2 separate regions of the Homo sapiens genome follow, and region 1 is linked to region 2. The links come from fine-mapping of genetic effects on gene expression. A gene starts in region 2. The other region holds a variant in brackets. All regions are shown on one strand. Distances are from middle to middle. Region 1 overlaps FIGNL2-DT (FIGNL2 divergent transcript). Region 2 holds the start of ANKRD33 (ankyrin repeat domain 33).

Region 1 (5,374 bases), 33 kb before region 2:
ACCCCACACATGGCCCTGCTGTTTGTTCTTTGAGCAGAAGCACATCCTGCACCATCCTGCAGCATAGCTCTTCAGCCAGCACCCCAAATTGATCCCACCATGTACCTTACAGTCACACAGAAACTCCCACTAAACATGCATACCTTTTTAATACCTCAGAATCTTTCTGCCTGGAATCTCATTTCCCTACTCTGCCTGATGAGCTCCTATTCATCCTTCAGAACCCAACTCAGGTATGCCCTTCTCTGTAAAGTCTTCCCTATCTGTCCCGCATCCTAGCAGAGCACTTCCAATCTTTTTTTTCCCCTAGGTTCCAGGGGTTGAGCCCACTCCATCCTGTCCAAAGGCAGAAGCCTCCTCCAAGTCCTGCACGATCCGCCCTCTAACATGCAAGCCCATCTGGAACCTCTGGAATCCTACTGGGCTTCTTCGCTCCCTAAAGTTTACAGACCCAGGGCAAAATAGGGAACTGCAAATCCAAGTGGCCCAGAGGTCTCTCCACCCCCACTCTGCCCTCTCTGGGCCTGAGCCTGACAGGAGATTCCCAGCACATCTGGTTGTACTTAAATCATCCAGCACTACTGGAGTAGGTTCCCTGCTTCTCTCCCTTCAGCCCCAGCCTCCTCCCCTTCCTACACCAGCCTTCCAGGTCTCTCCTCCAGGATGCCTTCCCTAACTCATCCAGCCTCGGTATCTGCACCCCACCCTTGAACCTCCACCTCTTTGGGTCTGGAGTCTGCCAGGGTGTGGAAGGGAGGGTGTGTGCTCCGCAAGACTCAGTGTGTAGAATCTCATCCTTCCCGAGCATTGGTCCTAGATAGAAACCTTCCCTTCAGGTAAGGAAGGGAGCCAGCCAAGAGCCTCCCCTCTGCTCCCTTGGCCTCAGGGGTGGCTGTCTCCAGTTATGGGTGTGTACAGTGGGGAGGAACAAGTTCAGATCCAGGCAGAGCCATTCCTTTGGCAACTCTTGCTGTCAGCCATCTTCCAAAGAGCTTTGCAAAATGTTAAAGAACAAAAGAGAAATAAATACAGAGAATATAGCAAGTATAAAAATGCACAGTCTAGGCCAGGCACGGTGGCTCACACCTGTAATCCTAGCACTTTGGGAGGCTGAGGCAGATGGATCACTTGAGGTCAGGAATTTGAAACCAGCCTGGCCAAGATGGTGAAACCCCATCTCTACTAAAAATACAAAAATTAGCCAGGTGTGGTGGCGGGCACCTGTAGTCCCAGCTATTTGGGAGGCTGAGGCAGAAGAATTACTTGAACCCCGGAAGTGGAGGTTGTAGTGAGCCAAGATCACACCACTGCACCCCAGCCTGGCTGACAAAGCAAGATTCTGTCTCAAAAAAAAAAAAAAAAAAAAAAAAGAATGCACGGACTCTAAAGAACAAGTTTGTAACCTACCATGACCTGCTCCACCAGGGCTCCAGGTTTGAATGTTCATTCATTCTTTTATTCAATAGCATGTACTGATGCCTGAGTCTACTAAGTTCTAGGAACAGTGACTCAAGTAAGATCCCAGGGTCAGTGGGGGACAGGAACAGGTGGATGAACAAATGCTGCATGCTGTAATGGACATGAGTCAGGGAGACAGAGGGGTGCCAAGGTTGAAGGTCAGAGACCCTGGACTGAATCCCACCTCTGTCACTTTCTGCACTGTCTCTGGGGAGCCACTTAATCTTGGGGAGCCTGTCTCCCCACCTGGAAAAGGACGATGATGTGACCTCACAGGGTCGTAGTGGGACTCAAATAAGATAATGTGTGTGAAAACGCCTTGCAAAGTGCTAAGTGAGTTGTTGCTATTATGATTAGGCTCAGGGGCTGCCTATCTGACACTCATTTTTCTAATGCCTCAACAGCTGTCTCTCTTACCCTCCCAGGGCAGGTACCACGTTGGAGAAACTTCTGAGGGTGAAGGACACCCACCCTAGAGTAGTGGGCAGTTAAGCTGCCCGCATAGACACACACACACACACTTTAGTTACACAAGCAGAACACCTTTTTATAAAAATTCGAAAGGCATCATGTGCCTACAGCCTCAGTTACTCAGGAGGCCGAGGCAAGAGGATTGCATGAGTCCTGGGCAACAGAGTGAAACCCATTTCTACTATTTAAAAAACACTAATAAGAAAAAATAGATAAGCAGAAAACAAAAAAATTAAAAATCCAACGCCTTTAATCCCACCACCCAGAGATAACCACCAGTAATATGTTGGAGTCAGTTAGCCGGTCACAGTGGTGGGGGGCCTGTGGTCCCAGCTACTCGGGAGACTAAGGTGGGAGGATTGCTTGAGCCAGGGAGATTGAGGCTGCAGTGAGCCGTGATTGCGCCAATGCACTCCACCCTGGGCAACAAAGCAAGACCCCATTTCAAAACAAAACAAACAAAAAACCATTTTGGAGTCAGCTAGATATTATTCTATTTATCTCTCTCTACACACACACACACACACACACACACACACACACACACACACACACACATATGTATATATAGAGAGATCTCCACAGTGTTTTATAATATACTTTTCTTAATAGACAATTTTTTTTTTTGAGAGGGAGTCTTGCTCTGTTGCCCAGGCTGGAGTGCAGTGGTGTGATCGCGGCTCACTGCAACCTCCACCTCCCAGGTTCAAGCAATTCTCCTGCCTCAGCCTCCTAAGTAGCTGGGATTACAGGCATGTGCCACCACAGCTGGCTGATTTTGGCATTTTTAGTAGAGACGGGTTTCACCATGTTGACCAGTCTGGTCTCAAACTCCTGACCTCAAGTGATCCACCTGCCTTGGCCTCCCAAAGTGCTGGGATTACAGGCGTGAGCCACCGCACCCAGACAATGGACAAATATTTTGAACATCTTTTGCTGTCTATAATACGTTTATACCACACAATTGTTAATGACAGCTTAATATTCCATCAAGTGGACATGTCTAAATTAATTTAAAAAGTTTCCTGGCCAGGTGCGGTGGCTCTTGCCTGTAATCCCAGCACTTTGGGAGGCCAAGGCGGGCGGATCATGAGGTCAGGAGTTTGAGACCAGCCTGGCCAACATG[A/G]TGAAACCCCATCTCTACTCAAAATACAAAAGTTAGGTGGGCATGGTGGCGCACTCCTGTAGTCCCAGCTACTAGGCAGGCTGAGGCAGGAGAATAGCTTGAACCTGGGAGGCAGAGGTAGCAGTGAGCCAAGATCTCACCTCTGCATTCAAGCCTGGGCAACAGAGTAAGACTCTTCTGGAAAAAAAAAAAAAAGTTTCCTTTGTTGTTGATTTTTTTCCAGAAATAAAAGCTTCATGAACAAACCTGTAACTTCCACCTTTGTGCACGCGTCTAATTATTGCCTTAGGATAAAGTTCTGGTAACCAGAGGCTAGGAATGCATATTTTTATCTCTGAGGAGCCAGGAGCCCAGGCCTCTGGGCAGTGCTCTCACCTCTCCTCCAGGCAGCCCTCCCAGACCTCCAGGGTTGAGTACATCTCCCATGGTCCTTTCCTCTCCAAGTAACTTCATCTCTTAGAGACCTGCCCTGAGACCCCTGAAAAATGCTGGGAAAGTCTGGCTGGTGACGGCCAGGAGGGGCCGGGGTGGAGAGCACAAAGCAGGCTTGTCTGGGGCACGGGAAGAGGCCCCGCCCTCCGTGCTGCTGGTCCAACATTCCTCCTGGACAATGGCTGCCTTGGGAATCCCGGGAATGAAGGAGGCGGGCGGCTTCCCGAACCTGCGCCCTCCACCCCCATCAAGTTGCGCCCTTTCCCCAGATGGAAAGCAGGGGCACTTTGCATTGCGGCAGGGTGGGGAGGCCAGCTAGCCTCCATGCCTACAGCCCCCGCCCCTCCTTTTACCAACACTAATCCACAACGCCCCGCAGCCGAGTCCTGCTCAGCCACCCCATCCCCATGGACCTTGGGCGAGTCCTGCTCCTTCAACTGTAAAATCAGGAGCTTGGATTCAGTGGTTGCAAAACTCCCCACAGATCTCAAAGGCCGAAATGTAGTGACTAAGGCATGCACAGGCTTTGGAGCCAGGTTGCCCGAGTTCAAATCCTGGGCTGCCCTTTACCCTGGGAACTTAAGCCCCTGGGTTGCCGGCTTCCCTCTCGCAAAGTGTGTTTGTTGATACAGCTCCACTCCCTCCCGATGGGAAGGCAAACTCCTCAAAGTCTATAAATCCCGATCCATGTGTAACTCTGCTCAAAACACTAACCAGATCTCCAACCCCAGGCCCCCTCATACCCTGTGCGGATTTTGGCCCCTGGACATTTGCCCAACAACTGGCCACACTTCTGGGAGCTGCGACGGGCACCTGATATCCCTGACGAAGCATCCTTCCCCAGCATGTTTCCATCTTCCCTTGCATCAGTCATAAGGCCGTAAAGCTGTAAATGGTAAAGGCTTACTGGGGCACACAAAAATTTTAAATATAGGAAAACTCTTATTTATTTATTTATTTAGAGACAGAGTCTCACCCTGTCGCCCAGGCTGGAGTGCAGTGGTGTGATCTTGGCTCTCTACAACCTCCACCTCCCGGGTTCAAGTGATTCTCCTGCCTCAGCCTCCTGAGTAGCTGGGATTACAGGCATGCGCCACCACGCTCAACTAATTTTTGTAGGTTTTGTTTGTTTGTTCGTTTGAGTAGAGATGAATTTTCGCCACATTGGCCAGGCTGCTCTCGAACTGCTGACCTCAAGTGATCTGCCCGCCTTGGCCTCCCAAAGTGCTGGGATGATGGGCATGAACCACTGCACCAGCCAGAAAACTCTTATGTTAGGTCATATGTCCTTATTTTTGTTTGGGAAATGCAGGCATTTCCAATGCCACCAGCAATTGCTAGGCATCATGGGTGGTATACACCCCAGGCTCTTATTAACCTATTGGAGGGTTAGAACAAACACACTTCAACAGGGACCCATTCACAAAGTTACCTCTGGAAATATTCCTGAGCTTTTTGCCACAAATCCCTGCCCACTCTCCCTCATAGACTTGTTCCCTGCTTCCCCTTACTCACCTCCTCCTCAGCCCTATTCCTATGCTCCCCTGAATTCAGATCCTCTGCTGCAAGTGCCAGAAAACTCCCCTCATAATGGCTTCTACTATAAGGAAAATACATGATCGTATTTCATCCAATTTAGACACCAATGATGTTAAGAAGCACTGCTGCTTCATGTACTTGATTGATTGATTGATTGATTGATTGATTGATTGATTTTTCAGAGACAGGGTCTTGCTGTGTTGCTCAGGCTGGTCTTGAACTCCTGGGCTGAAGCCATCCTTCCACCTCGGCCTCCCAAAGTGCTGGGATTACAGGCATGAACCACCATACTTCATGTACTTTAGAAAGAAAAAACACTGGCCGGGCGCGGTGGCTCACGCCTGTAAT
Region 2 (5,374 bases):
CTAGAATCCCTATCCATCAGACTTCTGTTTGCATTTCATTGGCCAAAACTGCATTACATGATAACACCTAACTGAAAGGTAACTAGAGAGAAGGGGAGTTATGAACAGGGATTGTGTTAGATAATCAGAGATGTCTGGTTTATCATCTGATAGATTTTTTTCTAACTGCTGTATAGAATTCCATAGGGTGCATCTATCCCATTTTGCTGTGATGGCTAGAGGTTTAGCAGCCATCTTGTGCCAAGGAGGAAAAGTCAAGAGAATCCCAGAGAAGGCCCTGACAAGTTTCTTAACCAACATCAACAGTTTCCTATTCCTGAACTTTTTATCATGTATTAAAAACAAGCACCTCTTTGTTTAAGCTACATGTGTCAGAGTTCAATTGCAGACAACAGAAATAAATCTGGACCTGGTGCAGTGGCTCACGCCTATAATCCCGGCACTTTAGGGGGCCGAGGTGGGCTGATCAACTGAGGTCAGGAGTTCAAGACCTGCCTGACCAACATGGAGAAACCCCGTCTCTACTAAAAATACAAAATTAGCCGGGGTGGTGGCACATACTTGTAATCCCAGCTACTGGGGAGGCTGAGGCAGGAGAATCACTTGAACCCGTGAAGCGGAGGTTGTGGTGAGCCGAGATCGCGCCATTGCACTCCAGCCTGGGCAACAAGAGTGAAACTCTGTCTCAAAAAAAAAAAAAAAAGAAAGAAAGAAAGAAAGAAAGAAAGAAATCTGATCAGTTTAAACAGAAAGGGATGGAGAAGCAGGCTTAGGTCCAGGAACAACCCCCAGCTTTGAGAGTCACATGACCTCTGCCTGTGATTGAGAAAACAACAGTCACTACTACAGGAAGCTGATGAATCAGGAAGCTGCTCACCAGAGCCTTGCTGCTGCTGCCATGACCTGTGACAGCAAAACGGATGTCCCATGCTACGTAGCTCTGTTCCAAATTTATATCTTGCACAAGAGCAGGACGCAAACCACAGAGTCATAGCTCAAGGGAATCTGGGAAGGGTTGTTTTAGCTTTCCAACTTCTGCAGCGCAGAAGAAACACTGAAAGCAGTTTTAGATTAATGTTGAGGAGCCCGTCTATTATGGACAACATACCATTCAGCTTTTTGGTTACTAAAAACCAAATGCACATCCAACTGATACACTGCACCTAAAGCAATAAGGATGGAGCTTAAGTGAAAAAGAAAAAACTAACAGAATAAGTTCTATAGCACAATTCATAACATGTTAGTTAAAAACACATACAAGCAGAGCATGGAGGCTCATGCCTGCAATCCCAGCACTGTGGGATGCCAAGACAGGAGGATCACTTGATGCCAGGAGTTTGAGACCAGCCTGGGCAACAAAGTGAGATCCCCATCTCTACATAAAAAAGTTAGACAGGCGCGGTGGCACACACCTGTGTGCCTCCGAGAAGCTCGTAGCTTCTCGGGAGGCTGAGGTGGGAGAATCACTTAAGCCCAGGAGTTTGAGGCTGCAGTAAGCTATGATCATGCCACTCCACTCCAGCCCAGGTGACAGAGTAAGACCCTGTTTCTAAAAAGAAAAAAATAAAATAAAAACACACAAATCAGTACTATCTTTTTCAATGAAATGTACATTTTCAAGGATATACAAGTGCCAGTTGGTAAAGGGTGGAGGAGAATGGGATGTGGGGATTAAGGGTGAAAGAGAGAAACTAAAGAAAGTAAAACAAAACAAGAGAGAGGTCTTGTACAGTCTGATGATGGGAGTGATACCAATGGGGGAATATCATTGGCTCCATTTTCTACATCTGTGGACCAAGACCAATCCATCAAGCTTAATATGTAATATAAATATTAAAGAATATTTTGATAACAATTTATCATTATATTAACAGATCATTTAATTTAAATATTTCATATTTAATTTATCACACTGAAACTAATCTATTAAATTTCATACATCATAATTTCTGGCCAATCCCTCCCTCACTACTGCCTGCCGCACTTTGTGCCCCGACTGCCCACCTGCACTAGACACATAATGTCGGTACTCACAATTTCGTTTGTTTGTTTGTTTTGTTTTTTGAGAAGGAGTTTCGCTCTTGTTGCCTAGGCTGGAGAGCAATGGTGCGATCCCGGCTTACTGCAACCTCTGCCTCCCGGGTTCAAGTGATTCTCCTGCCTCAGCCTCCTGAGTAGCTGGGATTACAGGCGCCCACCACCAAGCCCAGCTAATTTTTGTATTTTTAGTAGAGACAGGGTTTTGCCATGTTAGCCAGGCTGTTCTTGAACTCCTGACCTCAGATAATCCACCCGTCTTGGAATCTCAAAGTGCTGGGATTACAGGCGTGAGCCACCCCGCCTGGCCACAATTTTTTTTTAAAAGGAGGTCTCCCTCTGTTGCCCAGGCTAGAGTTCAGTGGCGCGACATCGGTTCATTGCAGCCTCGACCTCCCGGGCTCAAGCGATCCTCCCACCTCAGCCTCCTGAGTCGCTGGGATAACAGACGTGAGCCACCGGGCCCAGCTCTATACTCATAATTTGACAATTATGTTTTTATTTCCCCAGAACCTCAAAAAATAAGTTCAGGTGACCCCCCTGGAGACCCCACCCCAGGGTCATTCTGAGAGTACCAACCCTATTTAATGAGATACCTGCATTCACTCACCCCCTCTCCCGCAACCACCCCTTCAGCAAGTCGCGCTCCACCCAATTAGGAGGGGCTTTAGGCTGGGCCTAAAAAGTTGGGCCAAGACCCCACGAGGCAGCATCTCCGCCGGCGTCCCCAAGGCTGAGAGTGGGCGCGTCCGTCAGGAGGAGTCGTCTTTGTGAGCCCGCCCCGGCGGGGAGGAGCTGCCCGGCTCAGGCCCCGCCCACCCGGAGGATCTTGGGGCTGGTCTGAGTCCGCTCCTGAGACGTGACCACCCGCCCCGCATGGGGCCCCAGTCCCAGCTGCTTGATCCGGCTCAGCCCCGAGGTGTTTGCAGCAGCTCTTTATGAAAGTCCAGCCATCTGTTACCTGCGTTGCTTCCTGGGGAGGGATAGTCCACCTGGAGGCATTCGGAGACCCAGTGATTGTGCTCCGCGGAGCCTGGGCTGTGCCCCGCGTTGACTGCCTCATAGATACCCTACGAACCCCAAGTAAGAAAAAACGACGACCCTCTCTCCGTGAGTCTCACTGGGGTGCTGACCTAGAGTGAACCCTGCTTGCTTAGGGCTCCTGACCCAGCGCTTGTCCTTTCTCAGGGTGGATGGGGCGAGACCCCTGCTGGGATAAATGTTTTCCCTGGGGCAAGGGCTGTGCACTTCGCAGCTGCTGGGTCCCCTCCCTAGGATCCAGGGAGACACTCACTACTCCTCTCCATTCTGTGTTTTAGATGCCAGCTGCATGAGAAAAGGGACTCACCTTCTGGTTCCCTGCCTGGAAGAGGAAGAGCTGGCATTGCACAGGAGACGGCTGGACATGTCTGAGGCACTGCCCTGCCCGGGCAAGGAGACCCCCACCCCAGGCTGCAGGCTGGGGGCCCTGTATTGGGCCTGTGTCCACAATGATCCCACCCAGCTCCAAGCCATACTGGATGGTGGGGTCTCCCCAGAGGAGGCCACCCAGGTGGACAGCAATGGGAGGGTGAGATGTCCTGGCTTCCCAGAACAGCTGGGGGCATCTTTGCATCCCCACCACACCGTCCTGGCCTGGCTCCCTGAGAGGGGTTCAGGGGCAATACCTCCTGCAGTCCTAAGGAGGAAGGGAATGGTTAAGGGCGGGTCTTCACGGGGTTTGGGGCAGGCTCTGGGACAGATATGGGTTTAGAGGGTGCAAGGGGCCCTGGAGTGGCCCAGGGGGAAAGCAGGGGATCTGAGCTGCCCCTCCCTCAGACAGGCCTCATGGTCGCATGCTACCACGGCTTCCAGAGTGTTGTGGCCCTGCTCAGCCACTGTCCTTTCCTTGATGTGAACCAGCAGGACAAAGGAGGGGACACGGCCCTCATGTTGGCTGCCCAAGCAGGTGTGAGGCTGCTGCACCCCACTTCCGACAGCCCCCTTTTGATGCAGACAGGGCCTCAGCCCCACCCTTGTTGCACGGTGTTCTACACCAGACTCTGTCATGCTGGGTGGAGGGCGGTTTGGGAGCTTCATCACCCCCTTTCCTGGGGACCAAGCTTACCCTTGCTGCCCTGCAGGCCACGTGCCTCTAGTGAGTCTCCTGCTCAACTACTATGTGGGCCTGGACCTGGAACGCCGGGACCAGCGGGGGCTCACGGCGTTAATGAAGGCTGCCATGCGGAACCGCTGTGAGTGCGTGGCCACCCTCCTCATGGCAGGTGTGCGGGGCCTGGACCGGGGTGTGTGGCCTCCAGTCCCTCCTCCAAGCCTTCCCACCAGACACTAAGTCAGCTGTGATTATTTGCAGAAAGGAGAGAGGTGGAGATGGGGGATCAATCTAGTTCACCTTCCTGGAGGGGGGGGCACATGATTTGGGCTTCGTACAATCAACCAAGTCCTGCTATTGATAGCTCAGACATTGTGTGTGGAGGTCCCAGGAAGGAAAGTGTGGGAGGGGAACCTAGCCCAGCTGGAAAATCTAACACGAAAAAAGGCTGGCATCTGGAACCAGCCCCTGTTCCTAGCTGAGTGGCTTCCCTCTTTGGGCCTCACCAGTATTGTGAGGGTGTTAGCTTTCCCTGGGACTACCTCCAACTCTGACAAGCCAGGCTTCCAGGGGATCCAGGGAAGTGTCGTTGAGGCCTGTGGCTCTGTGGGGTCGTTCAGGGGGAGGTGCGGTGAAGTCCACATTGTCCATGGAGTTGTTTGGGGGCCCTTCTTCCCCGCAGTGGGGCTGCCCTCTGCTGGTCACTCTGGGGGACCCCTGCCTCCATTTTTCCCTTCCCCACACACCCCACTGGGTTTGGAGTGAAAAAGGAGTGAATGAAAAAGGAGGGCGCTCTACACCCTTTCTTTTGTCTTAGAGTGACTGCTCCTCCCACAACCCCAAGATGGGAGAGGGAGATGGTGAGAAGAGAAGAACCAGGAGAGGGAACCAGCCGATCATCCCCACCCACCTGCCCCAGAGGGTGCAGCTCAGGCCTCTGCCTGTCCTGGGCAGCCTGCACCGCTGCTCTGCTCAGCTCCTTGGATTGAGGAGATCCCTATTCTGCCCTAGGTGGAGCCCCACAATAGGTCTCTCTGAAGTCTTTTCCCCTCTCTGGACCTAAGTGTCTTAATCTCTCTTAAACAGGAGGTTGCAACACTGGCCTCCCTGATTCCACCTTCAACAGGATGGGACTCTATGGCTTCGAATGTAACCCACATCAGTCTTGCTCCTAAAGAATCTGCCCTTCCACAAATCACCAACCCCTATCCCGCCCCATGTCACCCCCTGTGCTCCTTCCCAGGT

Evidence for each region. PIP is the estimated chance that this variant, and not a neighbour inherited with it, causes the effect.
Region 1: its variant is fine-mapped to the expression of ANKRD33 in tibial nerve (GTEx, PIP 0.97).

Annotation. Positions count from the first base shown.
Region 1 is chr12:51,852,384-51,857,757 of GRCh38, forward strand. FIGNL2-DT (FIGNL2 divergent transcript) reads left to right here. Exons shown (of 3, transcript NR_135803.1): 3 at 311-346. Among named protein-coding and RNA genes, the nearest start is that of FIGNL2, 6.4 kb to the left of the region's middle. The variant A/G (reference allele first, on the strand shown) is at 3,056.
Region 2 is chr12:51,885,212-51,890,585 of GRCh38, forward strand. ANKRD33 (ankyrin repeat domain 33) reads left to right here and starts at 2,892. Exons shown (of 5, transcript NM_182608.4): 1 at 2,892-3,120; 2 at 3,357-3,607; 3 at 3,856-3,985; 4 at 4,161-4,271; 5 at 5,373-5,374. The coding sequence starts at 2,976.